Homo sapiens: one gene and its partners. Changing the gene in region 6 together with the main gene of any one other region gives a genetic interaction. Each region holds a gene or a part of one and is shown on either strand. Other genes may lie near its edges. The genes, in order: FIP1L1, CIT, GTF2E1, KRAS, NUDC, ERH and RIT1.

Evidence for each region.
Region 1: changes in ERH (region 6) and FIP1L1 together harm fitness more than expected from each alone (negative genetic interaction), as found in Homo sapiens cells (one large-scale study listed by BioGRID).
Region 2: changes in ERH (region 6) and CIT together harm fitness more than expected from each alone (negative genetic interaction), as found in Homo sapiens cells (one large-scale study listed by BioGRID).
Region 3: changes in ERH (region 6) and GTF2E1 together harm fitness less than expected from each alone (positive genetic interaction), as found in Homo sapiens cells (one large-scale study listed by BioGRID).
Region 4: changes in ERH (region 6) and KRAS are lethal when combined (synthetic lethality), as found in Homo sapiens cells (3 studies listed by BioGRID, with this or other methods).
Region 5: changes in ERH (region 6) and NUDC together harm fitness more than expected from each alone (negative genetic interaction), as found in Homo sapiens cells (one large-scale study listed by BioGRID).
Region 7: changes in ERH (region 6) and RIT1 together harm fitness more than expected from each alone (negative genetic interaction), as found in Homo sapiens cells (one large-scale study listed by BioGRID).

Annotation. Positions count from the first base shown.
Region 1 is NC_000004.12:53,383,944-53,388,043, reverse strand, and holds part of FIP1L1 (pre-mRNA 3'-end-processing factor FIP1), read right to left. Parts: intron 1-4,100.
Region 2 is NC_000012.12:119,709,223-119,713,322, forward strand, and holds part of CIT (citron Rho-interacting kinase), read right to left. Parts: intron 4,073-4,100; coding exon 3,981-4,072; intron 3,474-3,980; coding exon 3,369-3,473; intron 3,126-3,368; coding exon 2,956-3,125; intron 1,872-2,955; coding exon of another isoform or gene 1,827-1,871; intron 1,399-1,826; coding exon 1,318-1,398; intron 1,165-1,317; coding exon 1,029-1,164; intron 1-1,028. UniProt on the Homo sapiens protein: Plays a role in cytokinesis. Required for KIF14 localization to the central spindle and midbody. Putative RHO/RAC effector that binds to the GTP-bound forms of RHO and RAC1. It probably binds p21 with a tighter specificity in vivo.
Region 3 is NC_000003.12:120,766,587-120,770,686, reverse strand, and holds part of GTF2E1 (general transcription factor IIE subunit 1), read right to left. Parts: intron 1-4,100.
Region 4 is NC_000012.12:25,219,558-25,223,657, reverse strand, and holds part of KRAS (GTPase KRas), read left to right. Parts: intron 1-3,783; exon of another isoform or gene 3,784-4,100. UniProt on the Homo sapiens protein: Ras proteins bind GDP/GTP and possess intrinsic GTPase activity. Plays an important role in the regulation of cell proliferation.
Region 5 is NC_000001.11:26,920,276-26,924,845, reverse strand, and holds the start of NUDC (nuclear migration protein nudC), read right to left. Parts: upstream 3,104-4,570; 5' UTR 2,998-3,103; coding exon 2,917-2,997; intron 758-2,916; coding exon 680-757; intron 1-679. UniProt on the Homo sapiens protein: Plays a role in neurogenesis and neuronal migration. Necessary for correct formation of mitotic spindles and chromosome separation during mitosis. Necessary for cytokinesis and cell proliferation.
Region 6 is NC_000014.9:69,391,480-69,395,579, forward strand, and holds part of ERH (enhancer of rudimentary homolog), read right to left. Parts: intron 3,434-4,100; coding exon 3,346-3,433; intron 1-3,345. UniProt on the Homo sapiens protein: May have a role in the cell cycle.
Region 7 is NC_000001.11:155,908,550-155,912,564, reverse strand, and holds the start of RIT1 (GTP-binding protein Rit1), read left to right. Parts: upstream 1-1,215; 5' UTR 1,216-1,322; intron 1,323-1,646; exon of another isoform or gene 1,647-1,679; coding exon of another isoform or gene 1,680-1,687; intron 1,688-1,760; coding exon of another isoform or gene 1,761-1,803; coding exon 1,804-1,909; intron 1,910-2,058; coding exon 2,059-2,115; intron 2,116-4,015.

The DNA of each region.
Region 1 (4,100 bases), on a different chromosome or scaffold from region 6:
CAAAGTGGACCAAATATTACTACTGTCAAGCAGTACTATCGTCACCAACTTGAAATAATCATTTCATAGGCTGATTAATTCATGTAATGCTTACTGAGCACCAAACCATGTCAAGTATGGTTCTAGGCTGAGGAAAAAGTATGAGGAGCTGGACAATTACGGTTCCTGCCTTCACGATGTTTACATTTTAACAATCCAAATTCAGAAAAAGTGACTTAGCGGTATCTACATATGATGTACATGATTTTTCTACAAATGTACAAAAATCAAGGATTTTCTCTAAACTGTTCTCTTACAGGACCGTATAGAATAAAACAGTATTTTTATAAAAGGCTTAGCCACAAGTGTTCAATAAATGAGCTTCTTCGCTTTCCACCTAGCTACTTTCTATTCCCCATTCTGCCTTTTAAAACATCATTTTTCTTTTTTAAGCCACAAGCCTTTGTAGAGAAGCCTGTGTAGAGAAGCTTAGTGGTATGAAAAATTGCAGAGGCAAATTTGATATAATGTCCAATAGATCCCTATGAAGTCTCAGACCACTCTAAATGCTAGATCCTATACTTGGACTTTCTATAGGAACTCCAAAATAAACATGTCAAATGAATCTGTTTTGTGGGAGGTGGGAGCAGTAGCACCCACCTGTACCCAATTAACTGCTCTAGAAATCTTTAAGTCACTGAGCCCTTTATCTCCTCCTCCATCCACAACCAACCAGTTACCCATGTTATTTGTTTCTATTTATTCTTTGAGACAGGATCTTACTATATTGCCCAGGCTGGCCTGAAACTCCAAGGCTCAAGCAATCCTCCTACCTCAGCCTCCCAAGTCCATGGGACTACAGGTGTATACCACATGCCTGACTATATTTCTGTTTCTCTAATACTCAAATGTACTATTTTCCCATTCATCTCTCTACTACTGCTGCCTTAGTCTAGATTATCATCTCACCTGGACAACTACTTCACATCTATTAGTCAATGTCTCTCTATCTAACCCATCTCAACTACTGATGCTAGAGTTATCTTTTCAAATGATATGACCTGTCTAAAAACCTAATTAGGGGTGTCTAAGGGAGAGAATACAGTCATGAGTCCTTAGTTTCTGTTTCTGGTTAGGCCAGTAAAGCCCCTTTATCACCCCTCTTTTCCACTTATCACTGGAGACAGAAACTAAAAACCATGGCTTTGGGCAGCTAAAAGACTAAAACAAAGCAAAACAGAACAACAACAGCAACAAAATAAGGTGCATTGGACAAGCTTGCAAGGTCTACAAAGACATAGCAAAAGCATCCTAACTCCTTCCATAAGTGATTTCAACCATCTCTTTTCATCTACCTTATCCTCCAGCCATGTACTTCCTCCAAGGCACGCATCTAATATATTTATTGTTAGGCAGTGTCCTCCACCTAAAAACCACTGTCTCCCATCTCAAAAATTATTCAAACAAGTTCAAATGTTACCTCTGGGATCTTCTCTTCAACACCTGTAGGCTTTTAGCAACTCTCCTCTCAAACCTTTCGAATCACTTTGTACATGTTTCTATTCTAGCACTTATGTTGCACTGAAAATATTTACTCACATGTCTGGCATCCTCACTACCTCTGGAAAATAATAACTTCCTGTATTCTCATCAATTAATACATTCACAGATAAAAAATTGCTGCTTTCATGTAACTTTATCTAATTTGTTAACTCCATGAAATTTCATGGTGATTTTACCAAGGGTTCTTTTGTAGCATGGTAAATGTAAAAACAATAATAATAATGGAATGATCACAGATGGTTTGATAAAGGCACATTATCTTTGCTACTTAACACAGTGCCAGATAAATTATGTCTTTAAAAATTATTTATTGAGTACATAAATGGATCAATCTCACAGAGATAGGTAACAAACTACTTTCCAAGATAAATTATTTCTACTTTAAGAGTTGCTTTTCTTCATACCTTACTTACATATAAAATGAACTTGTAACAAAGGTATGTTACGCAAAAAAAAAAAAAAAATGCTATTTTGTATTTCCTAACAATTTACAATAAATCAATTCAGTCCTTGGACACAGTTTGTTCTTTAAATTTGCTTCTGAAAACGCTGTGCATAAGTAAATGTTTATCAAATTTCATTTTCTCACTGACTTTGTTTTCAAGGGATATACCTTGAAATATAGAGGTTAAACAACTTTACACTCTTCACAAATGCCTGTACTTTACTTTCGAAATGCATAAAATGAATAAAAAATAAATCAACTGATAAATGGGTAAACGCATAGAGGGATATGAGTTCAAGCAAACAAAGCAAAATGTAGATTGTATAATCTAGGTGATGGGTAAATGAGCATTCACATGTCAATTCCTTCAACTTTTGTGAGCATTTGAAAATTTTCATAATCAAATGTCTAAGGGGAAAAACCCTCAGAGACAACTGTAACTAAATAACATTCAGTTTATTTAGTCAATAACCATTTACTGCACACTTAACTGTATTTAAGGCAATGTGAGGAATAGAAAACTCCATAAATCACAGTTTCTTGTTTTTTTGAAGAGTTTTGAATTCAATGGTTTCTACTCTATAGAAATCTGAAGTGTGTAAAGGTAATAAATATGTATAAACATAATTACAATGCATAAAACTGAAAATTGCTATAAGAAATAAAGTTTAGTAAGGTACTATGGAAGTCCACGTATATTTAATATTTGAGTGCAATTTCTACCAAAAAAAGGTCCCATCCATAATCCAAAAAAATTGTCATTTGCTTCAAGTTGTTCTATAACTTGCAAATACAAATAATTTTACATAACATTTAATGAACATGCAATTATTACAATTTTATGTGTTCCTTTTGCATCATGCAGATAGTAAAGGCCTACTAGTACTACAGTATAAGCCCAACTTTCTCATTAAGTAATTATTTACTTTCCCAAATGAGAATGAGGAGCACATTTAGAATATCCACCCCTAACATGAAAAATCAGCCTCTTTACTCTGTTCCCTAAAAAGGTGCTAGGATTTTAAAATTACATGGGTAGTCATTATTATAATACAAAACTGACTATGACAATAACTGAATTGGCTTTAAGCTTCCTGAAATGACTTCTGAAAACAAATGACTCTACTAATAAAATATTTAACAATATTTTTGTATATACTGGTTGATTCCAGATGAGGTTGCTTAATGAACTATAGTGAAATTAATGTATTTTATGTTTCCAATGCATAAGCTATAATAACCACATTATACAGCCAATTTGAAAAACAAAACACATTGACTCTTATTCTCCTATCGTAACTAAATCACAATTCGTACTTCAATGTATTTCCCTTCCAATCTTTCTGTAAGATTCTTTATGCGCTCAATGAGTCAATGACAGTCCATTTACTTGGTCCAGTTTATAGAATACAAAATTGGAGACAAACATTGGCCTAAAAGGCCTAAGGGAGAATTAGAAACCTGAAAACACTATTAAGAACAAAAAGAAATACTTTTGATATTGTTTTTATTAGGCAAAAAAATTAAAAACCTAAACTCAGGTCTGGATAATAAAGTGAAATAATAATAAGTACAGATACAAATTACAATTTAAGGATTTCTAATTCTAATCAAAGAATTTATAGTACTTTTTTTTTTTCTTTTTCTCGAGACAGAGTCTCACTCTGTTACCCAGGCTGGAGTACAGTGGCTCGATCTGGGTTCACCGCAACCTCCACCTCCCAGGTTCAAGTGATTCTCCTGCCTTAGTCTCTGGAGTAGCTGGGATTACAGGTGCCCACCACCATGCCTGGCTAATTATTGTATTTTTAGTAGAGATAAGGTTTCACCATGCTGGTCAGGCTGGTCTTGAACTCCTGACCTCAGGTGATTCACCCGCCTCGGCCTCCCAAAGTCCTGGGATTACAGGCATGAACCTCTATGCCTGGCCTAGCACTCAATTCTTTTATAAAAACACTTTAAATTCAGCATCAAAAACTGCTGCTTCTATGTACCTTCGCCTAATCAATTAACTGTATTTTAGCAAAGAAGTATATTCATGATGAAACTTTAACAAGTTCTTTTATGTTAAAATAGAAAAATGTAAAAACAATGGACTCAACCACTGAGAGTT
Region 2 (4,100 bases), on a different chromosome or scaffold from region 6:
TTTTTCAAAACCCATAGAATGTATACCACCAAGAAAGAACTCTATAATGTAAACTGTAGACTTGGGGTGACAATGATGTGTCACTGTCAATGTGTCAATGTAGGTTCACTGACTCTAACGAACGTATCACTCTGGTGGGGGATGTTGGTAGTGGGGGAGGCTATGCATATATGAGAACGGGGGTATATGGGAACTCTCTGTACCTTTCAATTTTGCTGTGAATCTAAAACTGCTCTAAAGAATAAAATAAGGAAGAGAGGAAGAGACGGAGGAAAAAGAGCTGAGATTAAGAAAGGCCAGTTCTTGTCCATAGTATGTCAGTCCCCGGATCCAGCCATGCCTGAAACAAGACCTAACTGTTGTTGTTTTGAACACTGAATCGATATATTACTCTTTTCCCCTTTAAAAATAATGTCACTAACACAGACAGAGAGAAATAAACTGTACCCTGGTTATGTGACAGAATGTCTTCAATCCTTAGGTTGATATACTGAAGAACTTGGCGTCATACCTGCAACTAACTCTCAAATGGTTCAGGAAAGAGAGAGAGAGAGAGAGAGAGAGAGTGTGTGTGTGTGTGTGTGTGTGTGTGTGTGTGTGTGTGTGTGTGTGTGTTAAGAAGACAGAGAAAAAAATTATGACAAAATATTAGCAAATGGTGACTTGAGAGAGATCACAGAGTTAACAGAGCAAGCAAGCTCTCAGAAGGTCAGGGCCCACGGTGGTTTCGTTGCAATCAGGACAAAGGGTTTGGCTTTAGATAGTCTTCGAGGCTTAGCACTCTTCACTTGGCCTAACAGTGGGATGTTCTTTGGGAATGTCAGACTGTGCTAAACTGGATACTGGAAGGGAACTGAATCTGGACAGAGGGGGTCCATTAGCTGAGGCTTGGGCATCTATGGGGACACAGAGATAAGAGCTACAACGGCTCCTCTCTACTATTTTGTGTTTTACGAGCATGAAACGTGGCTTCAACATATTGGCTCCCTTGAAAGTAAAGAAAAAACACCATGTCCTTGGCCTCACACCTGCTATCATGAGTAGCTTCTCCAGGTCCTTGATAATATAAATTTGGAAGACTGCTCCAATTCCTGGGACATGGGTTAGGGAGTTTTTCAAGACATTCAGGGCGTAGAGCCCTTCCTCGGTGCCCACCAACACCACCTGCAAGGGCAGAAGTCCGAAGGCAGAACATAAGCACGGTCACGTCACCAGAACAATCTCTAGTAAGAGCAACAAGGCCTCCACAGCCCTTTCTTTCTTGATGGGGTGTGGCTGTAACCAGACACCAGCTGGCCGTGCCCATGCAAGCATTACCTGGTCACTGAAGGGCAGCGTGCAGTTCATGTCTAGACGGTCATCACCTTCCAGTTTCAGCAGGGAGTTTCCAAGCAGTTTCTTTTCATAGGTGAAAGAAAAGAAAAACAGAAGACATCGTGAGGCTGATCTGTTTATGACCAAACCATCCAGAGAAACCAAGAGAAGGTTAAGGCCAAGTTATTCCTGGAAATGCTCAGAAACGCACATATGCTCTTAGCTCAGCCCGTATTTTGATCTGAGCTCCAAATGCAAAATGCGAGTGCTATTGGTATCTCTGGGGCAGCTGTTAATTAGCATCTGAGTTATAATTTGGCTGGGATGCAGAAATAAGGGAGGGTAGTAGACATGGAAAGCTATTCTGTAATAAGAAATAAGCTGAAGCTAAGGAGATTTCACCTGCGCAGGGTTAATAAGACACATGAAAGACTCCTTCCCCCATAAGGCTGCAGCAGAAGTGCAAAGGCGCCGTGTTAGCAGCGAGCCAGCACGCCTCTGCATCTCTTTACCTGAACCCAGGCAGGCAGAAGCTCGTAAGAAACACAGTCGCGGGCCTATTGTACACATATTAACAAGGATTTCAGTAAAAGCTCACGTGTGAAACGACCAACAAGTCATCCAAACAGGTCTAACCACTGAGTAAAGCCCTTTTCAGGAGGCTTGTGGTTAAGAATCTGCCAATTGCTAACACATAAAGTGTTTATTAGGAGTGAAGAGTCTGAAAAGAGCTGTTTGGTCTTCGCTGGAGCAAACGTCAATGAGCAATGAGCACTGTTTGTATCCTGGAACATTTTAGGTGGGGTGATGCCAATCACAGCACACCTACGTTTCTAACAGCTTAAGGATAAGTAGGACTCCAAACCTGCCTACGGAAGAGCAAATACTGCAAAAACAACTGAGATGCTTATGAAAAGCCTTCCTGGAGGGGACACAGCTGCCGGCAGCCTATTGTGCTGCTTCGTGGCCAAAGTGCTTCTAACTCAAGCCTTCAAACCAGACAAACTCATTTGAGTAAACAGGAGAGAGGATTTCCTTATAAGTACATTTGCTGCTGCATCACCACAACCAAGGTCTACAATGCCACCAGAGTAGGCTACTGATGCCGATTCCCCCATTCTTTTTCCTTTGCTTTTACAGTCCATGCCTCGCTCTGTTGCCCAGGCTGGAGTACAGTGGCACAATCGTAGCTCACTGCAGCCTCAAACTCCTGGGCAATCCGCCGGCCTCAGCCTCCCTACTAGCTGGAACTACAGGTGCATGTCACCACACCTGGCTAACTTTCTTTCTTTCTCTTTTTTTAAGAGATGGGATCTTGCTATCTTGCCCAGTCTGGTTTCAAACTCCTGGGCTCAAGTGATCCTCCTGCCTTGGCCTCCTGGGTCACTGGGACCACAGGCATGAGCCACCGCATCCCTGATTCCCACATTCTAAATGGATCATGATGCCACACAAGCTACCTTGGTGCTTGTGCCTTCATCACCACCAGACTCCTGGCCATGACACAGTCTAGAGCCATCAGCCCTCAGAGAGAGAGCCTGAGGGGAATCAAAATGGCCAATGGGATTCTCGTCGTTAACACCAGTTACCAAGTCAGCCCCCTTTACAAAGACAACCTCCAGGGCCCGCTTTCATACTCACAGCATCAGCTTCTGCTTTTTCCCTAGAAACTCTCCCACCTGCGACAACTGATTCTAAGGCGGTGACCCAGCGCTGTTTGTCAGGGAAGCTGGGAGCTAGCAAGTAGAGGGTTCTCCCGGGCCAGCAGGTGGTGTGCGGGTGAGATTCCATCTTCAGTATGTATGGGACATCTAGGAGATTTCAGAGAGCACAGGATTGGGTGTGGATTTCCCCCGTTCCCACTGGGAGGGACGGGCCTGAGAGATCAAAGATGCCCACCAAACCACGCAAATCCCAGTTACCGCCAAGGCGGGGAGCGGAGGAAGATGGGCCTCCTTTGCAGAGCCAATCTTCCCTGTACCACCCCTTCTGTCCCTGCTGATTGGCCAAGCCCGGCCCACCTCCAGGGCGGGGCTCCTCCGGCTCCTCCTCACCTGCTTTGGCTGTATTTGCGAGTTCGGAAGCACCAACGGCACCATGAATAGATACATCCCCGTCGGGAAGGCACAGCTCAAATTCTTCCACCGGCCTCTGTCCAGCTTGGTGCAAAGAGGAAGGGCAGAAAGAAAAACAAAAGAACAGGAACAAGAACAAGGGGAGAAGAGAGAGCGAGAGAGACAGCAAGGGAGAGAGAGACAGGGTACGTGTGTAAAGAGAGGCGCACGAGAACAAGGAAGGGACAGAGGTGTGCAGAGAAGGCAGAGAGGGAAGATAAAAAAAAATAAAGTGTGTCAGATGAGTAGCACAGTCAAATTTCTGATGACGATGCGGATTTATGGGTTAGTTGACTGAGGCAGAAGTTCTCGGAAGGTGTATTAGCAGGTGGAATCTTCAGGGCAGCGCCCTGCGGGTTCTTCAGGGGGGAGACCTATAGATGTGAGTATCGCACCAATAACCTTTAGAGAAGTCATTTGGTTTGTAAGTTTCAAAAATGGAAAAGCGTAGAAGGCTTGCAAGGCAGTCCAAAAAACAAAGCCTTCGCGCCAGCACTGGGGAGACCTGGGTTAGCCACGTGCAATGACCTTCCCCCTGAATTATTAATTTACCTTCTCTGGCTTCATTGTCATAAATGAGGACTTTTGATCCCTCCAGGACAATGTACTTCCTGTCCCAGCCTTGCTGTCCTCGTTTGTTATTCCTGGGGAAAGAAAGATGGAAAAGAAAAA
Region 3 (4,100 bases), on a different chromosome or scaffold from region 6:
AGCAGATAGTTTATACCTCCACCCTCCCCCAATATCTTATTATTAAAACTTTCAAATATACACAAAGGTTGAAAGAATTTCACAGTGAACAGCCATGTGACCACCATTTAGATTCTACAATTAGCATTTTGCTATTCATCACATATCTATCCATCTATCATTTTTGATGTATTCAAAGTAATTTCATCCCTAACTTCAGCATAGTTTTTAATCACAATATTTCTAATATGTATTTATTTTAACTTAAAGCCAAATTCTTTACAGCTTACCACCACAACTTGTACCCTTTCCTGGCAGCTTTAGTCTTTTTTGTTTTCACATTACACATTTGGGCCTACGTTATGGGGAAAGCCAAATAAATACCTAAAACCAAGAGTTTCTAGTCATCCTGAACATTGTCACAGGCTATTTTTTAAAATTTATTAACCATTTGTATCTAATCAATTCAATCTATTATGCTAAAACTCACACTCTTAAACATTACTTAACAGTCTACACCACTAGCCACACCTGGATTTCCAGTTTGGTTCTTATTCCCAAAGACAGGAATATGCATCCTTCCTTTCTGACTCAACTTACTTGAAAGATTAAAAGGGAACATGTAAGTACTTAGTGTCTGGCAAATAGTTAAGTACTCAAACATTTAGCTATAAAAGGCCCCATGTATGATTGATACATAAAGAACAAACAACCAAGTGATCTCTACTTCAACATAACACTAGATCCTACTGATACATTACCAGTATAATAATTTTCTTTACTGCCCCTCACACATAGCCAATAGCATGTAAATTATTTGTTCAAATACCCTAAAATACATCTTCTTATTGTCTAAATGCCACCTAATCTACATCTATCCCAAATAAGTGAGAAAGAGAGAGAAATGCAGCCCTTCACAGCTAGGAGGTGGCTCAGCACTCACAGCTAGACTGTGGCATTTTTCTGTCAAACAAGATCTCACAGATCACTAACATCAGACTATGATGGAAGTGAGGCAAACCCAAGCCACTGTGGAATTGCGTCTGAGAACAGACAAAAGCAAGGACTCCATGCAAACCACAAAAAATCCCATCTTGCACAAGTGACTGCTGCTTCTTTACCATTTAGTTTTAGCGTCACTCTGTTCTTGTCACCTCCTAGATAAGATTTATGAAGATACCCAATCATAGAATTATCCCCACTTCTTCACAGCATCCAATCCAAAGGAAACCTTCATCACTTCCCTGAATCCTCCCCAAAATTACCCAACAAAAGCCCACATTCTCTAAGTCTGTCCAACATCATCTTACCGACATTTCATGGTTTCCCCATGGTATGTGGCTTCCCTTGCTGCAGAAAGCATCAATAAACCTAACTTTGTTTACTACAGGTGCGTACCTGATAGCTTTTGACTAATGGTCACGAACATAAAGATTATAACTTAATCAACTGGACAAGAATACTATTATACCAAAGTAAAGAGAGGAAGAACTAGCTTTTTTTTTTTTTTTAGGTAAAAGATATCAAATTGCTTTAAATATAAAAATGAATATGTAAAAAGCCAACTAATTACAAATGCTAACAATTCAGCTCAAGAGAGGGGTTTAGACTACAAATTTAGATATGAGAATCAACAACCTATAGGTGGTAACTGAAGCCATATAGTAGATAGAAGCATCCGAAGAGATTAAGGAGAGTGAGAAGAAGCAGTTAAGGCATAAACTCAAGGAATGAGGAATCCTTGAGAAAGAGAAATGGTGCAACCAGAGTGACAGGATGGTGTTTCAAGGAAATGTATGGTCCTAATATTAAGAGGCCAACAAGAGTTGAAAACTAGCTTTTATATTTGGTAACAAAGGGTAAGAAGCAACCTTGGCTAGAAAGGTTTTAGGTAGAATGTTATCTTATATTATTCTCCAACTGTTCCAAGCTGTCTCAGCCTCTTCTCTTCAACAGAAGCAAGGAATATAATCATGTGGGGGCTTAAAAATAAACCACATAAAGTAGGGTTGAATATAGCTCTCGAATACCTGCTGAATTAAAAAACACACCAATGTGAGACTGGGACTTAAATTGACTGTTGAAAAATAAGCACCTACAGAGACTGTCAATGAGAACTAAGAATAGTTTGGAAGACAAGTTATCTAGTTCTGTAGTTTTCAAAATGTTTTTAAAGAAAGGAATCTCATTTCTCAAATGGAAAGGTGATTAATATATAAACATAAAAGCAAATGCTCTGGGGTAAAGTATAGAAACACAGCTAAGACAAAGGTTAATACTCCAACCCTCTCATTATCTGTTTTCAAAGCATCACAAACCGGCCTCCTCAATGTCTCCCATCAGGCACACTCTGCTGCAGAGCCTTTGCACTGCTGTGCCCTCTACCCAGATGCCTTCCCTCCAGAAAATCACATGGCTCATCTCCAAACTTACTTCAGTTCTTTACTCAGAAGCCACCAGTAAGGCCTTCTGTAGCCAACATTATCTAAAATTTCAACTGTCTTGTCCACCCAAACAATCGTATCCTCTTTCATTTTCTTTTCCCTTAGCATTATCATTATCCAACATGTTTTATTATTTATCTAATTTATCATTAAAAAGTCATGTTATACCCGAATTTTAAAAAAATGTCCTCCCAAATACCCCATTTCTCATTTTAAGACAATATGTACTCCAAACTTCAGCTTTAAGTAAACAAATCAACATGCTTGTCAGTGTAGCTCATCCTCATAAAACAGCAGTGCTTTTATTTGGGGAAAAGAGAGAAAGAGAACAACACTAATATCATTATTTCACAGAAGGACAATCTCAGAATGACAGTCCTTTAACTCGAGTAATTTATTTTCATGAAAAAGAATAGGGGGAAAAATAAAGTATATAGTCATAAGGCACCTAAATTCTAATCTCATCCAAACTTAACAGGAGTTACTTACAGAAGGGCTGATTTTGCAGGTATGAAAACAGCAGCTTTAACATTATTACTAAGAACTGTGAAGGGTCTGAGATTTTACCCTACTTGTAAGCTAACAAGTTATTCTGCCAGTTTCATGGATACTGGCAGAAGACACAAGACCCCAGGTCAGAGACAAAGAACTTCACTACTCAAGGAAATAGCAGTAGCCAGTGTCAGTATTTAAGCCAGTTCCCCATGCCCCAATTTCCATGGGGTGCGATAGAAGGGCCAGGTAACAATTACACATGCAATGGGTTGTGTTACAGGAAAGAGAGCCTGAGCTTAAAAGGAACTCAAATATTTTATAATGGGCATAAGCATGCCCATTCTTTGCACTGGAGGGTGGCATTATCCTTACTTACTATAAACTCTATGTAAACATGCTCTGGAAGGAGACACTTTTTATACTGGACCATAAGCAAACCTGCTCTTTGCTCTGAAGAGAAATACTATCTCTGTCTTGCAAGGCTGCTCGTTATATAAACATCCTTGAAAATGATAGTCCAGGAAAAAAAGCAGTCAGTCTGTATCTCTGCTTGCCAAGACATGCATAACATGTGAGAGACCCATGGAGAATAGTCTCCCAATAAATACCACATCTAGCAAATATTACAAAAGGAAAAGCTAGCCTGACATCTCTGAGCCCTGTGTTTATCACAAAAACATTAGTTATAAATGAGAAGCCTGTCAAAGCCAAATGTAGAATTTCTTATTTTTCTTCTGGGACCCTAAAAAATGCAAGAAAAGTAAGAAATTTGACATTTTACAGAAAATGACTTAAGACCAGTTTAATATACCAGCAGCATTTTTTATACATTTCACTACGCATTGTAAAAATGCAAATCAGTTTTCCTGAAATCAGAAGGGGCAAGTGGCAAGGGGCAGGAGGACACGGAAACCCAGCACATACTATGTAGCAAGCAGGCACCCACGCTACTGAGAGAGTGGTGGTGGCATACACAGACAGAACCAGTCAGCAAGAAGCTTTAGTAGGGAAGAAAGATGTCTGGAGATAAAACAATCAGGGATCAGTGCAAAAAATAAAGTACATAAATGTTTTGGAGTTCAAAGAAGGAATGTGACTTCTAGCTGAGGACACTAGGAAAAGCTTATTGAGAAGGTAAACCTTTTTGAGAGACAGTTTAGAAGATAAAAGATGAAGGAGAAG
Region 4 (4,100 bases), on a different chromosome or scaffold from region 6:
CCTAGTTATACAAATTTGATATATAGTAAAGAAACAGTAAATTCTACTTCAAGTCATTTTGGGAGGATTAAAAACTGAATTTCTCTAGTTTGACCATTGTACAGATTTATCTGGCAATTTTACTAAAACCTGATTTATAGGTTAAACTTGGTGTATATCATATATCACTTTACTTTAGAGGAATTAAGATTTCACATAAATCCATTTCCAGGTTCCAAAGACCAGGAAGAGGCTTGGTTTTTGTTTTTCTTTTTACTGTCTTTACAGTCTCCTTGACTTTTCTTAGGAGAGAAGGTACTGAGAAAACATGATTCTAATATTTATTATTTTTTCTTCCAACATTTTCTTATGAAACATTTTCAAATACAAAATTGAGTTTTATTTAAAACATTTGCAAATATACTACCTAGATTCTACCATTGTTGTTTTATATTTGCTTTACTTACAACTTTTAAAAGATGCTTTTTATACCACTGAACATTTTAGCTTACATTTCACAAAGAAAAGAAAAAATTTAAGAGACTTTGCATAATGTTTTAAGGGGTTGCAGTAAAGAAGTGCTTCTTATATTTTCTTATGCATACAAATCAGCTGGGCTTATTAAAATCCAGATTCTAATTCAGAAGGTTTAGGTGGGGACCGAGTCTGCATTTCTAACAAACTCCTAGGTGGTATTTTTCTTGGTACTTGGACCATACTTTGAGTAGAAAAGCAGTAGAGGACATAAAAAGAGTCTTGTTAGTCCCACTTTGTTGCTGTCCACTTCTCATTTGATAATATCCTAAAATAGCTGTGTCTCCTTTTTGGTGGTTGTATGATTACTACCTCAGAAGTACTAATTGATTCTTGCTATTTGACCTTAATACTTTAATATAACACAGCATTCATATTTGATCAGAAAACTATCTGGCTTCCTTTTATAAGAGATTTTTAGGTTTTATACAGTTTTGTGGCCTTGGGTTTTTTTGTTTGATTTGTTTTTTTGAAGGTATATAATATGTAAGTAGATAAACAAATTTGATTTGTAGACATTTTTATGTGGATCATCTAATTAAAAATGGAGGGATACAGTATGAAAGAATACTTGTACTTCTTAACAGAGCACTCAACCTTTCTTTTACATCCTGTTTCACTGATGTTATTATGTAATTTATGTTGCTAAACTATAAATTAGATATTTAATTTCTGTTCTTTGATTTCCTTTTATTATTAAATGGACTTGTTGATTTGCCTAGAAATTAATTTGCCTTTCAAAAGTCTTATTAATCTTCCTCCGTTGAAATTAATTTGATATTTGCATGCTTCTGGAAGACTTTAAAGAGCTATTCCGAGTAACTGTAGAGATTATAAAATGAAATATGGGAATTTTAATAAATTTTACATCTCCAGTTACTGGTGAAAATGTCAAGTCCTCCTTTCTGCAGAGTATTTTGTTACTCATCTGTTATTCAGCTTATTTATTTATTTATTTATTTATTTATTTTTCTTTCTTTCTTGTTTTTTTTTTTTGAGACGGAGTCTTGCTTTGTCGCCCAGGCTGGAGTACAGTGGTGGGATCTTGGCTCACTGCAGGCTCCGCCTCCCGGGTTCACACCATTCTTCTGCCTCAGCCTCCCAAGTAGCTGGGACTACAGGCACCCGCCACCATGCCTTGCTAAATTTTTGTATTTTTAGTAGAGACGGGTTTCACTGTGTTAGCCAGGATGGTCTCGATCTCTTGACCTCGTGATCCACCTGCCTCGGCCTCCCAAAGTGCTGGGATTACAGGCATGAGCCACCGCGCCTGGCCCTTATTTGTTTTTTAAACAAAATTAGTGTGCATATCCTTGTTGTATTTTATCGGCAAGTTGTTTTATGCCCTAACTTTTGGGGTCTTGATCATGAGCCTAAAACACGTAAACACCCAAAAAGAATTATATTCCGGTTAAAGGAACAAAACATTCATTTAGAAGTTCTCATCCATGTAAATCAGAGGCTGGCAAATATTTTCTGTAAAGGGCCAAGATAGTAAATGTTTTAGGCTTTGAGGGCCACAAGTGGTATCTGTTGCATTTTTTTTTAATTATGACCCTTTAAAATGCAAAAATCGTTGTTAGCTTGTGCATAGTATAAAAATAGGCTGGCCGCATGCTGTGGCTCATGCCTGTAATCCCAGAAATGAGGTGGGAAGCCGAGGTGGGCACACCACCTGAGGTCAGGAGTTCGAGGCCAGCCTGGCCAACGTGGTTGAAACCCCGTCTCTACTAAAAATACAAAACTTAGCCAGGCGTGGTGGCGGGTGCCTGTTATCCTGGCTACTCAAGGGGCTGAGGCAGTAGAATTGCTTGAACCTGAGAGGCAGAGGCTGTAGTGAGCCCAGATCAAGCCAGTGCACACCAGCCTGGACGACCGAGCGAGACTCTGTCTCAAAAAAAAAAAAAAAAGGCTGTGGCTGCATTTGGTCCATTGGCTGTAATATGCTGATTCCTAATTCTCTGGGTAACTTTAGTGTTTGATTAGCTACTAGAAGTTAGGTTAAACTTTTGTATTTTACAGGCTAACTTTAATAATCTTAAAGTAAAACTTAACATAGTTCATGGAAAGGAAATAGAAATTTTACCCTAGTACTCTTTTTTTTTTTTTTTTTTTTTTTTGAGGCAGAGTCTCCCTCTGTCACCCAGGCTGGAGTGCAGTGGTGGGATCTTGGCTGATTGCAACCTCCTCCTCCTGGGTTCAAGCAATTCTTGTGCCTCAGCCTCCCGAGCAGCTGGGACTACAGGCACGCACCACCACACCTGACTGATTTTTGTATTTTTAGTAGAGACAGGGTTTCGCCATGTTGGCCAGGCTGGTCTTGAACTCCTGGCATCAAGTGATCCTCCCATCTGAGCCTCCCAGTGTGCTGGGATTACAGACGTGAGTCACTGTGCCTGGTCTCTAGTATTTTTTTTTTTTTTGAGACGGTCTCACTGTTGCCAGGCTGGAGTGCAGTGGCGCGATCCTGGCTCACTGCAACCTCCGCTTCCCGGATTCAAGCGATTTTCCTGCCTCAGCCTCCTGAGTAGCTGGGACTATGGGTGCACACCACCACGCCCAGCTAATTTTTGTATTTTTAGTAGAGACGGGGTTTCACCATGTTGGCCAATATGGTCTCAATCTCTTGACCTCGTGATCTGCCCGTCTCGGCCTCCCAAAGTGCTGGGATTACAGGCGTGAGCCACTGTGCCCAGCTGTACTTTTTAAGATAAGAATTGCAGGGTATATATTTTTACCAACTTAATAACTTATAATTTTAAAAAGCTAATTACTTGGCTAGAATATAATGCGTTACATATTCTTTACACTCAGTTCAGTCCATATCTGAAAGGCAAATAGAATTATTTTCTGCTAGTACATTGTGTAGTCCCTATGTTCCTAGTGTATAAGGACTGTTACCTAGTTCACATTTATCTGGGTTGTTGACAGATTTTCCTGGTCCCTTTGGACAGTGCATGGCCATGTTGGCAAAAGCTGTCAAAATTGAAACATTGACACCATGAGAATTGTGTGTTTTCCAGTCTGCTAAAATCAAAAGTGGGAGGGTTCAGTAAGGTGAATAACAGAAGCAGAGTTTTCGGGGTATCTGTTACTCCTCATTCGGCTTTTCTGCTCTCTGGGGGTCTCAATTTAAATATAATGTGAAAATTAGTTTTACGAACCTAAAAATGTTGAGTGATTCATTTCCTGGTTTTGTTGTTAATTTCTAGATATTTAAATTAATTGTTAGAAGAACCCCGTTAAAGAATGCTTTGCAAAACAACCTCCTTATGTGCTATGTCTCTGTTTAATAGTAGTTGAGTTTGTGTACATGAGATCAATATTTTGAACTATAGCTTTTTATGAGTTAAAAATTGACGGAACAGTTACTGTGCACTTGCTGTGCACCATGGTAGTCTCCCAAGTAGTGGTTTTTCTGCATTTCAATAGTACATGAGATAGGCTGTGGGTGGCAAGGTTTCTTGAGAAAGTGAGGGATGCACAGTTGGGTTTTAGAATACATCTTGTTCCTCCATGCCCTTCCCCACCAAAAGGCTGGTAGTCTTGCATTTGTATATAGTTAGGGTATTTGATGTGTTGCTTCC
Region 5 (4,570 bases), on a different chromosome or scaffold from region 6:
GGCACAGTGGCTTATACCTGTAATCCCAGCACTTTGGGAGGCCGAGGCGGGTGGATCATGAGGTCAGGAGTTCGAGACCAGCCTGGCCAATATGATGAAACCTCGTCTCTATCAAAATACAAAAATTAGCCAGGTGTGGTGGCGGGCGCCTGTAATCCCACTTACTCAGGAGGCTGAGGCAGGAGAATTGCTTGAACCCAGGAGGCGAAAGTTGCAGTGAGCCGACATTGCGCCACTGCGCTTCAGCTTGGGTGACAAAGCAAGACTCTGTCTCAGAAAATAAATAAATAAATAAAACCTCCTCATTGGAAAAGGAACTGAGAGGCACTGTGTCGGGGCAGAGGACAGGTTTACAACAGACTGGTTTCAACCCTGGTTCTCCCACAGCTCAGCTCAAGACTTTGGATAAGGTGCAAAATTCTCTTGAGCCAATTTCCTCAATGGGGATAGTTAACACCTGCCCCTCTTGTAGAACTGCAAAAGTCATGGGAAATAAGGTAGATAGAGGGCTGAGCAAGGAGTGGAGCTTGAAGAAATGACAGCTTCCTTCCCTTCCCCAATTCCTCACCTTTGGCATTTCGCTTCTGCTGAAAGTTACTATTATGCCAAAGAAAGGCCAGGTGAGCTTTTCTTCTGAAGAGACAGAGCCGCCCAAAGGACAGTGGTTTCCAACACTTACCTTCTCTGCCATCCCTTCTTCTCCTCCAATGAAAAAGTCTGTTTTGCGTCGAAGGAAGCTGAAGAAGGTGTTCACAAGCTGAAAGAGGGGGAGAAGATTAAAGTAGTAGAGCTGCATTTGGGAGCCCTTCAACTGCACACAAGTCAACTTGTTTTGTCTAGGAGGGAACTTGGGACTTGACTATTTTTCCTCTGAGCTTCCCAACTGAGGAGATTATCTCCCCAGCAGGTTCTCTTAGTCACTTCCACCATGAAGCAGATTTCTCATATCCTGTGTGTGTGTGCGCCTTTCACTTTCCTTGTGATGCTAGAAGCAGCCTAAGCGTATGGAACACTCCTCTGCATCCAGGGCATGAAAAGCCTGGGCCCAGCTTTCCTCTCCAGAAAGTAAAAAGCCCATCAAGACACTGGCTCACACCTATAATCCCAGTACTTCAGGAGGCTCAGGTGGGCGGGTCACTTGAGGTCAGGAGTTCAAGACCAGCCTGGCCAACATGGTGAAACCCCGTCTCTACTAAAAACACAAAAATTAGCTAGATTACAGGTGGTGGGCACCTGTAATCCCAGCTACTTGGGAGGCTGAGGCAGAGAATCACTTGAACCCGGGAAGCAGAGGTTGCAGTGAGCCAAGATCGTGCCACCGCACTCCAGCCTGGGTGAGAGACTCTTGTCTAAACAAAAAAAAAGACACTGGCTAAGTTACCGGGTCAAAGCAAGAAGGAGGAGAGCAAATGAAGCCACTTCAAAGGAGGATAAGATGGATTAATTCTGGCTGGAGTACAAGTGTAGCCAACGGTTTGAGTATCAGATGGACATATATTACCTTTTGACTTTGCAGAAGTTTCTTAACTCTGTACAACAGGAATAAGATGCAGTACCTATTTCTAGGGACCTGGTGAGGATCATGAGGTCAAGGAGGTGAGGCCTTTAGCAATGTATGGCACAGAGCAAGAGACCCACTGGCAGAGGGTAAACACCTTACAAATAGGAACCATGAACCATGGCTTAGTCTGTCTGCCACCTGCAATGCTGGGCACCAGATATGGCTAAAGGTACATAATCAGTAAAATTCTTGCTGAATGAAACAATCTAGTGGTGACTCAAGGTCAGCACACACAAACCCTTTATTTGCCCAAGAGTGGGTCTAAATCTGATTAAATCTGATGCTAGAACATATCTCAATGGTTTCCGTTCTTGCTTCTAGACAGTTTTTCAATTTGCTCAAAAATGAACTCGCTCCCAAATCCAGTTTTGTGCGAACAGTTTAGAGGAATGGAGACAGGAAGGCTTTTCACACTTGCAAATGAGAAACACTCTCCCCACCACAAAGGGCTTAGAAGTCCTTGGTCACCAGACACCTAGGTTACATAGGAATAGAAAGTTCAATGGAAACCTACCTCCAGTAAGACACAATCAGCCATGGACTCTGGGAAGCACACTGACCTGTCTAGGTGAGAACCATGTTGCATGATCTAGGCAAATCCTTGCCACTTCTCTGGCTCTGAGAATGAGAGTTCTGATCCTGACAGACTTTTCTACCGTTAACTTTGTGTTTGTTCCAAAAAAACCAACTCCAGAATCTGTAACAGTTGGCCCTTATTGTCGAGTGTGGGACACACATCAATCACACGACAAATACTTGTTGAATGAAAAAGCCTTATTACTGAGAACTTACGGTTCTTAACTACTCTCTGGAAACCGGTATTCGCAGCTGTCTCACAGATAAGGAAACTCAGGCTTGGAGAGATGTAAAGGTTCCAAGTTGGTAGGTGGTGGAAACTAATCGTGAACACAGGCCTCCTATTCCCCCATTCAAGGCCTAACAAGACCACGTGCTAACATCAGCCCGCTCCCCTACCACACACATTCGACGGCTCGCCCCAAGCCTTGGTGGATCCAAATCACGATATTTGCGACGGTTCTTACTAAGGGATGCTCCTTGGAAGCCGCCATCAAAGTGGAAACGGGGGTGGGGGCATATGTGAAACTAAAGGGGGATCCTAAGCTCAGGGATGCGATAATTTGCTACTACTGAGGGGCGCCGGGGGCCCGGGACTGATGCGAACCGGGTGAGACCTGCTGGCGGGTGGCCAGGCCGGAAGCTGGGCGCAGTGAGAATGTAGGGGCATCCCAGAAGCCCGCGAGCCGCTGGGGTGGGTCTCAGCCCTCGAAGGCAGAGAAGGGCGGAAGGAGCGTGGCCAAGGCCGCCGGGTGGGCCGACGCCGCGCGGGCCGTTACCTCCTGCACGCCGCCCTCGTGCTGCTGAGCCATGGCCAGCAACATGCCGTCGAACCGCTCCTCCTCCTGCTCTCCGCCCATCGCGCCGGCTCCGATCCACGTCCCGGAGCTCTGCACTCTAGTCCCGCGCTCTCTACGCTCCTGCGGGTCGCGCCGGGCCCAACGACTCTAGTCGTCCGCCTTCCGCAGCGGAGCCGGAAACACGCACGCGCGCGGCTGCCCAGGCCCGCCTCCACCTCCTCTCTTCCCGCCTTCCTCCCGGTTTGCGGCCATTGACCGTGCGGCAAGCAACCCGCTTCGCCGACCATTGGTCGACATTCGGAGCCAATCAACAAGCGCGTCCACGAAGCGGTAGGCGGAGCCGTGGGCCCGAGAGTTTGGCATGAGTTGCTATGGTCACCCGATGCCGTGGAGACTTCTAGAAAGCCCTGGACTCAAATCTGGCAGGGTTGGAAGTTAAAAAGGGACAAGTTTTGCCCCTCTCCCTTGCTAGCGACCCCCCCAGCTTGTAGAGCAGTGAAGCTGAAAGTAGCCTTACTCATCTCTTCCAATCCTAGAAGGGACTTACCACAGGACAGCCTCCTCCTCATCGACCTCACTGCGTACTTGACTAGGGCCAGCTTCATGGGAGTACAAATTGCAGTCGCACAGCACCCAGGCTTAGAAAGGCTCCACGCTTGATTTCATGGCCTTCTGTTATAGTCTTGAAATTCTTAATAATTTTGGAATAAGGAGACCCACATTTTCATTTTGCACTGGGCCCAGGAAATTATGACAGGTGCTGAAATTGACCTTCACTTCTGTTAATGCGGGGACAGGACCCAGCCATCCAAGCTAATCCCTCCACTTGTGCAATGAATCTCATCATCTTAGTCTTTTCAGGAACTCTATCCCTGTTAATTATCCCTTTTTTTAGCTTATGCATCACAAATATCTTTCTTCTTCCCTTCAATTTACAAACACGCTTTAATATCTTTTTGTTTGTTTTTAGAGATGGGGTTCTTGCATTGTCACCCAAGCTGGAGTGCAGTGGCACCATCTTGGCTTACGGCAGCCTTGAACTCCTGGACTCAAGCCATCTTCCCCACTTCAGCCTCCAGAGTAGCTGGGACTACAGGCTCACATCACCACGCCCTGCTGTTTTTTTTTTTTTGTTTTTTGTTTTTTGTTTTTTGGTAGAGATGGAGTCTGTGTTGCCCAGGCTAAGTCTCAAACCCTGGTCTCAAGCACTCCTCCTGCCTCAGCCTCTCAAAGTGCTGGGATTACAGGTGTGAGCCACCATGCCCAGCCCTGTTTTTATATTATTATTCCATGGCCCCACTTTCTTCTGCTGCTACCTCTCCAATTTTCAGCTCTCATTTGCAGCAAACTTGTTTGCTTGTTTTTCTACTCCCTCACCTCCCATCTCTCTACAGTATATTCTAGTCTATCTATTCTTCTTTTTTTTTTTAGACCAAGTCTCACTCTGTTGCCCAGGCTGGAGTGCAGTGACACGATCTCAGCTCACTGCAACCTCTGCCTCCCAGGTTTAAGTGATTCTCAGCCTCCCAAGTAGCTGGGATTACAGGCACCACTACGCCTAACTAATTTTTTTTTGTATTTTTAGTAGAGGGGTTTTCACCATGTTGGCCAGGCTCGTTTCAAACTCCTGACC
Region 6 (4,100 bases):
ACTAAAAATACAAAAAAAGGTAGCCAGGCATGGTGGCGCAGGCCTGTAATCCCAGCTACTTGGGTGGCTGAGGCAGGAGAATCGCTTGAACCAGGGAGGCAGAGGTTGCAGTGAGCTGAGATTACGTCACAGCATTCCAGCCTGGGTGACAGAGTAAGACTCTGTCTCGCACGCCAAAAAAAAAAAAAAAAAAAAAAAAAAAGCATATTGCTAGGTTAAAGCAGCCAGTCTGAAAAGGCTTCATACTCCGTAACTCTAACATGACATTCCAGAAAAGGCAAAACTACAGATATGGTAAAAAGATCAGGGGTTTGGGGGTGGTGGCAGGGAAGGAGGTATAGGTGGAGCAATGGGGATTTCTGGTAGTGAAACTACTCTGTATGATACAGTAAAGGTAGATACACGTAATTATACATGTCAAAACCCACAGAATGTTCAACACATACAGTAAACCCTAACATAAACTGCGAACTTTAGTTAATAATAATCTATGAATATTAATTCACCAATCCCAACAAGTGTAATCAGACTAATAGAAGATGCACTAATAGGGGAAACTAAGAAGGGGAGGAAAGAAGGCGTATGCTGGAGCTCTGTACTTTCCAAACAATTTTCCCATAAGCCTAAAACTGCTCTAAAAACATGGTCTTAAATAAAGTCTTTAACTGCTCTTAAAAAAAAGGGGGGAGGAAAAAAATGCTCTGATCTACAGGGGAATATTTACTACAAGAAAAAAAAAAAAAGAATAATAAAATTACCATTTGGCAACCACATCATGTGAGAACTTATTTAATAATTATTTTAACATTTTTTTGTTTTAGTTTTTTAAATGGGAAATAAATCACCACTTTTAATTTTTAGAAAAAGAGCTACCAAGTCATGAAAAGACATGGGGGAAACATAATAAATGCACATTGCTAAGTAAAAAAAGCCAGTTAAGAAAAAGCCACACACGATAATGATTCCAACTATATGACATTCTGGAAAAGACAAAACTATGGAGACAGTAAAAAGACCAATGGTTCCCAGAGGTTGAGGGTGGGGTAGGAGGGGATGAATAGGTAGAGCACAAGAAATGTTTAGGGCAGGGCAGTGAAACCATTCTGTGTGATGCTGTAATGGCGGACACATGACACTGCGCATTTGGGAAAATCCACAGTAATGTAGGACATAAGAATGAAACCTAGTATGAACTATGAACTTTACTTAATGACAATGTATCAGTAATGAATACTGGTTCACCACTGTTACAAATGCACCACACCAGTGAAATTCATTAATAATAGGGGAAATTGTGTAGGGGTGAAGAAAGAGAGTAATATCGGAAAAACTGTAGTTTCTGTTCAATTTTTCTAGAACCCTGAAACTGCCCTGAGAAATAAGAGTATTGCAGAATCAAAGACCAAACATGATAATGTAGGTTAGGTAACAATTTGCTAAGAGAGCCTGCATACAAAATCTACATCAATAGCAGGCAGAAATGTCAGCAGAGAAATGGATCTGTAAAGAGATGAAGAAAAAAATGCCATGTTCTTCTTTAAGAATTAGAGTAGATGGCCTGGAGTGGTGGCTCACGCCTGTAATCCCAGCACTTTGGGAAGCCGAGGTGGGTGGATCACTTGAGGTCAGGAGTTCGGGACCAGCCTGGCCAACGTGGCGAAACCCTGTCTTTACTAAAAATACAAAAATTAGCTGGGCGTGGTGGCACACACCTGTAGTCCCAGCTACTGAGGAGACTGAGGAAGGAGAATCATTTGAACCAAGAAGGCAGAAGTTGCAGTGAGCTGAGATGCACCACTGCACTCCAGCCTGGGCGACAGAGTGAGACTCTGTCTCAAAAAACAAAAAGAAACAAAGACACCTGCACTCATACGTTTACGGCAGTACTATACACAACAGCAAAGTCATGGAATCAACTACGTATCCATCAATGGATGACTAGACAAAGGAAATGTGGTGTATGAGAATGCATGCACACACATCCCATGGAATACTACTCAGCTATTAAAAAAAGAATAAAACCATGTCTTTGCAGCAACATGGATGGAATTGGAGGTCATTATCTCAAGTGAAGTAACTCAGAAAGTCAAACATTTAATGTTCTCATTTATTAGTGGAGGCTAAATGATGTGTGCACATGGACAGACAGAGTGGAATAACTGACACTGGAGACTACAAAAGGTGGGAGAATGGTGAGGGATGAAAAATCACTACTGCGTACAATGTACACCAGGTGATGGCTACAATAAAAGCCCAGACTTGGTTGGCGCGGTGGCTCATGCTTGTAATCCCAGAACTTTGGGAGGCTAAGGCAGGAGAACTGCCTGAGGCTAGAAGTCTGAGACCAACATGTGCAACACAGTGACCCCATCTCTATAAAAAAACCAAAAAATTAGCCAGGTGTGGCGGCAGGTGCCTCTAGTCCCAGCTATTTGGGAGGCTGAGGCAGGAGGACTGCTTGAGCCCAGGAAACTGAGACTGCAATAAGCCATTATCACCACTGTACCCCAGCCTGGGTGACAGAGCAAGACCCCGTGTCTTAAGGAAAAAAAAAAAAAGGCCCAGACTTTACTACTATGCCATATATCTATATAAGAAGACTACACTTGTATCCCTTAAATCTATTAAAACAACCTATTAAAAACAGACAGACACACAAGCCTATAGTGTTTGAGCTTAACCAGAATATATAAGGGATACCTGTAAAATATTTCCATACTGTAACAAAATAACATGTGACAAATAAGAAGAGAATATTTATAAAACAACAAGCAGCTCTGGAAAGTCACTCATTATATACATTAGTTTAAAAAAAAAAAACACCTAATACTTGTAGCAAGGAGGATACTATATACATAATTAATGTTTAAAATGTTCAACCGGCCAAGGCGGATTACTTGAGGTCAGGAGCTCGAGACCAGCCTGGCCAACATGGTGAAACCCCATCTCTACTAAATACACAAAAAATTATCTGGGTGTGGTGGCCCATGCCTGTAGTCCCAGCTACTTGGGAGGCTGAGGCACAAGAGAATCACTTGAACCTGGGGGGCGGAGGTTGCGTAAGCCGAGATCGCATTACTGCACTCCAGTCTGGGTGATAGAGCGAGACTCTGTCTCAAATAATACATAAATAAACAAACAAATAAATAAAATGTTCAATAATTATGGTCCATCCTAAATATCTGCTTTCCCTCCTAAAATTAGCAATTCAATAAATTTGGAGGGTTGGAAGTGATAAAGGCAGGGCCTGGGGTGGATGGACTATTAAAAAAAAAAAATTTGGAGGGGAAAAACCCAGTTCCTAAATGAGACATTTTTCTACCCCTTGATTAGTGTTAAACTCACCTTCCATGCATTCATTCACAGATTCGTAGTCAGCATAAGTTCTGCCTTCTGGCCTCTTGGTAGGCTGTACCAGCAAAATGGTGTGAGACTGCAGGGGAAAACATGATTTCAATATAAGTTTCTATTTGAGAAATTCATAGTATGATAAAAAAAAATCCCCATTTGTAATGCAATAATGATTGCTAGTTATTAAAATGTAATTAGAGAGGCCAGGCATGGCATCCCATGCCTATAATCCTCATCCTCTGGGAGGCTGAGAGGGGGAAAATCACTTGAGGCCAGAAGCTTGAGACCAACCTGGGCAACATAGCAAGACCCTGTCTCTACAAAAAAATAAAATTTGCCGGGTGCATGCCTGTAGTCCCAGCACTTTGGAAGTCTAAGGCAGGAGGATTCCTTGAGCCCAGGAGGCTGAGACTGCAGTGTGCCATGATCACACCATTGCATCGGAGAGTGAGGCCCTATCTCTTAAAAGAAAAAAAAAAGTCATTAGGATACTTTTCCCACAAAAATATTGATGTCTTAGTCTAAGTATAGTATCTAGCTGGATTCACAACTCTGCTGTACGGTCTCCCTAAGTCTCCCAGTCCTACCGTACTTACTGCCTACAAGTAATCAGTATAAGCTACCTTGCCCTCCTTTTCCTTTTCTATCTTTTCTTCCCAACTAAATTATAAACCTGCTTAGGTTTTCTGTCTCCAGTGGTCACTTTCCATCTTTAATGCTCTTAAGTCACTAATAAAAACTCAGATGGG
Region 7 (4,015 bases), on a different chromosome or scaffold from region 6:
GTAGAGACAGGGAGTCACCATTTTGGCCAGGCTGGTCTTGAACTCCTGATCCTCAAGTGATCAGCCCACTTCAGCCTCCCAAAGTCCTGGGATTACAGGCGTGAGCCAGCACTCCTGGCCAGAAAGACTTAAATTTTGAGACGGAGTTTTGCTCTGTTGCCAGGCTGGAGTGCAGTGGCACCCTCTCAGCCAGCTAACTGCAACCTCCACCTCCCAGGTTCAAGTGATTCTCCTGCCTCAGCCTCCCGAGTAGCTGGGACTTATAGGCGCATGCCACCACACCCAGCTAATTCTTTTGTATTTTTAGTAGAGACGGTTTTACATGTTGGCCAGGATGGTCTCTTATTTCTTGACCTCATGACTCACCTGCCTCGGCCTCCCAGAGTGCTGGGATTACAGGTGTGAGCCACCGCGCCCGCCCGGCCCAGAAAGACATTTAAAAAGAACAGTGGTAGGCAGAGCTGCATGAGAACAATTTTCGTGTCAGTTTCTTCTAGCACCTGTGCTACGTAAATAGAGGGGAATATGGTTATAGTGGCTGCGCTTCAGTTCTGTATTTAACTCAAGGCCTCTGTTAACTCAGAGCTCTCTTTCCTGCCAGAGTGTGGTACATTTATTTAAAACAAGTTTTTGTGTGTCTTATACGTGTTTAAAATACATACAGAACTCTGATTAGGGAGTGTTGTGAACATCTGGTTTCTGAGAATGAATTTAGGTTTCAATAGCAAAAGTCATTGTGGCCGCTCCTTTAGGAAAGTCATTTTTCTCCTATGAGTAGTCATCCCCGGTAGACTTGACTGAAATCCTGTGTTTTAGGAGGATTTGGGGGGTGCCCCTGTCCTCCCTTCCTCTCATTACATTGGGTCAAATTAGTTTTGGGTTTTTTTTTTTCCCACAAGCAGCAAACAACCCTCGGTAAGTTGTTAATTTAAGTGTCCCTGCATGTCTCTTATCACGTACTCCCTTCCCTTTTGTGTAAATAATTTACTTTCTACTCGTGATTAAATACCCTTGTCTGTGAGTGCATACACCCTAGGTTGGGTAGGTGACCAGAGGACCTTCAGCGGTGGGTCCCGGAACTGGGTTTTAGGGACCTGGGAGGGGCGGGAAGAGGGCGGGGCAGGCTGTGGGCGTCACTGAGTGGCCCCGCCCCTCCTTCCGCGACTCGGGCGCCGGTGGCGCCATCTTACTCGGTTGCGGGAGGGGTCACAGGTCAGTGCCGGAGCCTCCGCGAGTGAAGGAAGACGAAGTGCGTGACCCGACCGGCTGTGGTGTTCCAGTCCCCACTGACCAGTAGGAGCAGCAGGGCGTCGGCTTGTGAGGTAGAGGGGTGGGGAGTCTGGCGGCGGAGCAGCAGCTGGGGGTGGGGAGGGGGTTCGGAGGAGAATGGGGAGGGGGCGGAACCTCTGGGTACCGCAGACGTGAGAGAACCCCTGCGGCCTAAGGGGCCGCATCCCTTTCTTCCCAAAACTTTCTCCTTGTCCCTACTGTGCCGAGACGTAAATTTATTTGTATCTTTTTATTTTTCTCTTTGGAAAAAGTAAAACCTGTGATGTGTCATGTGACTGAACTGTCTAGGAGGGAGGGTGAAGATGGGGGGGTTTCTTAGGGCCACCCGAAAGGGTGCAGTGGTGAGCAAGAGGGACAGGCCAGAGTAAGAGGGACAGGCCAGAATATGTATGGAAAGGTAAGGCACTGGCTTGAGGGCTGTCGCCGTGGTGTCTCCATCCTGGATTAAGCATTTCCTCCTCCTTTTCTAGGTGGCTTTTCCTCGGGGCAACCGAGGAAGGCCCCAAGAGGACAATGGATTCTGGAACTCGCCCAGTTGGTAGCTGCTGTAGCAGCCCCGCTGGGCTCTCACGGGAGTACAAACTAGTGATGCTGGGTGCTGGTGGTGTAGGGAAGAGTGGTAGGTAACATTTTCCATTTGACAGGAAGCATGGATGAAAAGTACTTAAATGACCAGATGGGATACTTGCTATCTTGCAATGTTAATACTTAAAATTCTCTCTGTGGGTCACCTTTGTGAGGATTTGACTTTTATTTCTTCTTTTGAAGCCATGACCATGCAGTTCATCAGCCACCGATTCCCAGAAGATCATGATCCCACCATTGGTAAGCCAGATCATCACTTATGTTTCCAAATATACCCCATAAAAATATCTTAATGAATATCAGTAGTTTCTAACTATTTATATTTTGAGGCTTTTTTGGAGTCTAATTCAGATTTATTTAGAAACAAGGGTATCAGCAGTTGGTAAGCAACTGAATATTTCTTTTTTTTTCAGACTTTATGTCATAAGCCATCTTTAGTCTTTGTCTCTTACTGAACATTAATGGGACAACTCTCTTTGTTGTATTTTTTTATGGTTGTATACAGGCCACTTAACGAAGCCTTTTCTTGCTGTCACTTCTCTAAGGGTATGACTTGAGACTCGCTCTGTAACTGTGAGTCAGCTGGTTTGAACTTCCACAAAAGGAAGCAGAGAAACAAGTAGAGCCAGGCTGCTGAACTCTTACAACCCAGACATGCCAAGCCTGGACATCTTGCACTTGGAGCTCTTGGTTTACTTCCTTATACCTTAAGTTCATTACGTAGTAATGTCTTCTCCCATGTCTGTCTGTTGTTTTTTTTTTTTTTTTGAGATGGAGTCTCGCACTGTCTCCCAGGCTGGAGGGCAATGGTGCGATCTCCGGTCACTGTAACCTCCGCCTCCCGGGTTCAAGCAATTCTCCTGCCTCAGCCTCCTGAGTAGCTGGGATTACAGGCATCTGCCACCACACCCGGCTAATTTTTGTATTTTTAGTAGAGATGGGATTTCACTATGTTGGCCAGGCTGGTCTCAAACTCCTGACCTCAAGTAATCCATCCACCTCAGCCTCGAAAAGTACTGGGATTACAGGCGTGAGCCACTGTGCCTAGCCCTCCGATGTCTTTTATGGTCCTTAACTCTTGTTGCAGAACGCTAATAGAGTAAAAAAGTCATTTTGTTTGCTTTGACTTTTTTATTTTTTAATTGCTAATCTCTACAAAGACTAAGAACATTACTGTCATTCCTAAACCATAAGGAAGCAGGTTTGATTCTAAGGGTTTATATCCTAATATGAAAGAAAAATGGATGTGGGAATGGGAGAGGGCACAGAAAGTCAGCTGTACTGTTATTTTCTTTTTTTGTTTTTTTTTTTGGAGACGGTGTCTCACCCTGTTGCCCGGGCTGGAGTGCGGTGGCACAATCTCGGCTCACTACAAGCTCCACCTCCCAGGTTCATGCCATTCTCCTGCCTCAGCCTCCCGAGTATCTGGGACTACAGGCGCCCGCCACCAAGCCCGGCTAATTTTTTTTTGTATTTTTAGTAGAGATGGGATTTCACCGTGTTAGCCAGGATGGTCTCAATCTCCTGACCTCGTGATCTGCCCACCTCGGACTCCCAAAGTGCTGGGATTACAGGCGTGACCACTGCGCCGGGCCTTATTATTTTCAGTATGTGACACTCTTTGCCATGATCCTAGTTCTCTAGGAAGGATTTCCATTGGGTCAGGCCTCTGCTGCTCTGTTTCCCGCAAAGCCAATAATGTTTTGTGGTGGCCCAGCTTTGATATGGTCATTTCATAGAGCACATGATTCCAGGGATGGGAAAAATAGAAAAAGTCTTGACTTTTTCATGTACTATATCAAATTTAGAACACTGTTCAGAGATTCAGGCCAGGCGCGGTGGCTCATGCCTGTAATCCCAGCACTTTGAGAGGTCGAGGCGGGTGGAGCACCTGAGGTCAGGAGTTCGAGACCAGCCTGGCCAACATGGTGAAACCCCATCTCTACTAAAAATACCAAAACTAGCCGGGCGTGGTGCTGGGTGCCTGTAATCCCAGCTACTGCGGGGGCTGAGGCAGGAGAATTGCTTGAACCTGGGAGGCGGAGGTTGCAGTGAGCCGAGATAGTGCCATCACACTCCAGCCTGGGGGATAAGAGCAAGCTTTTGTCTCAAAAAAAAAAAAAAAAATTGTTCAGAGATT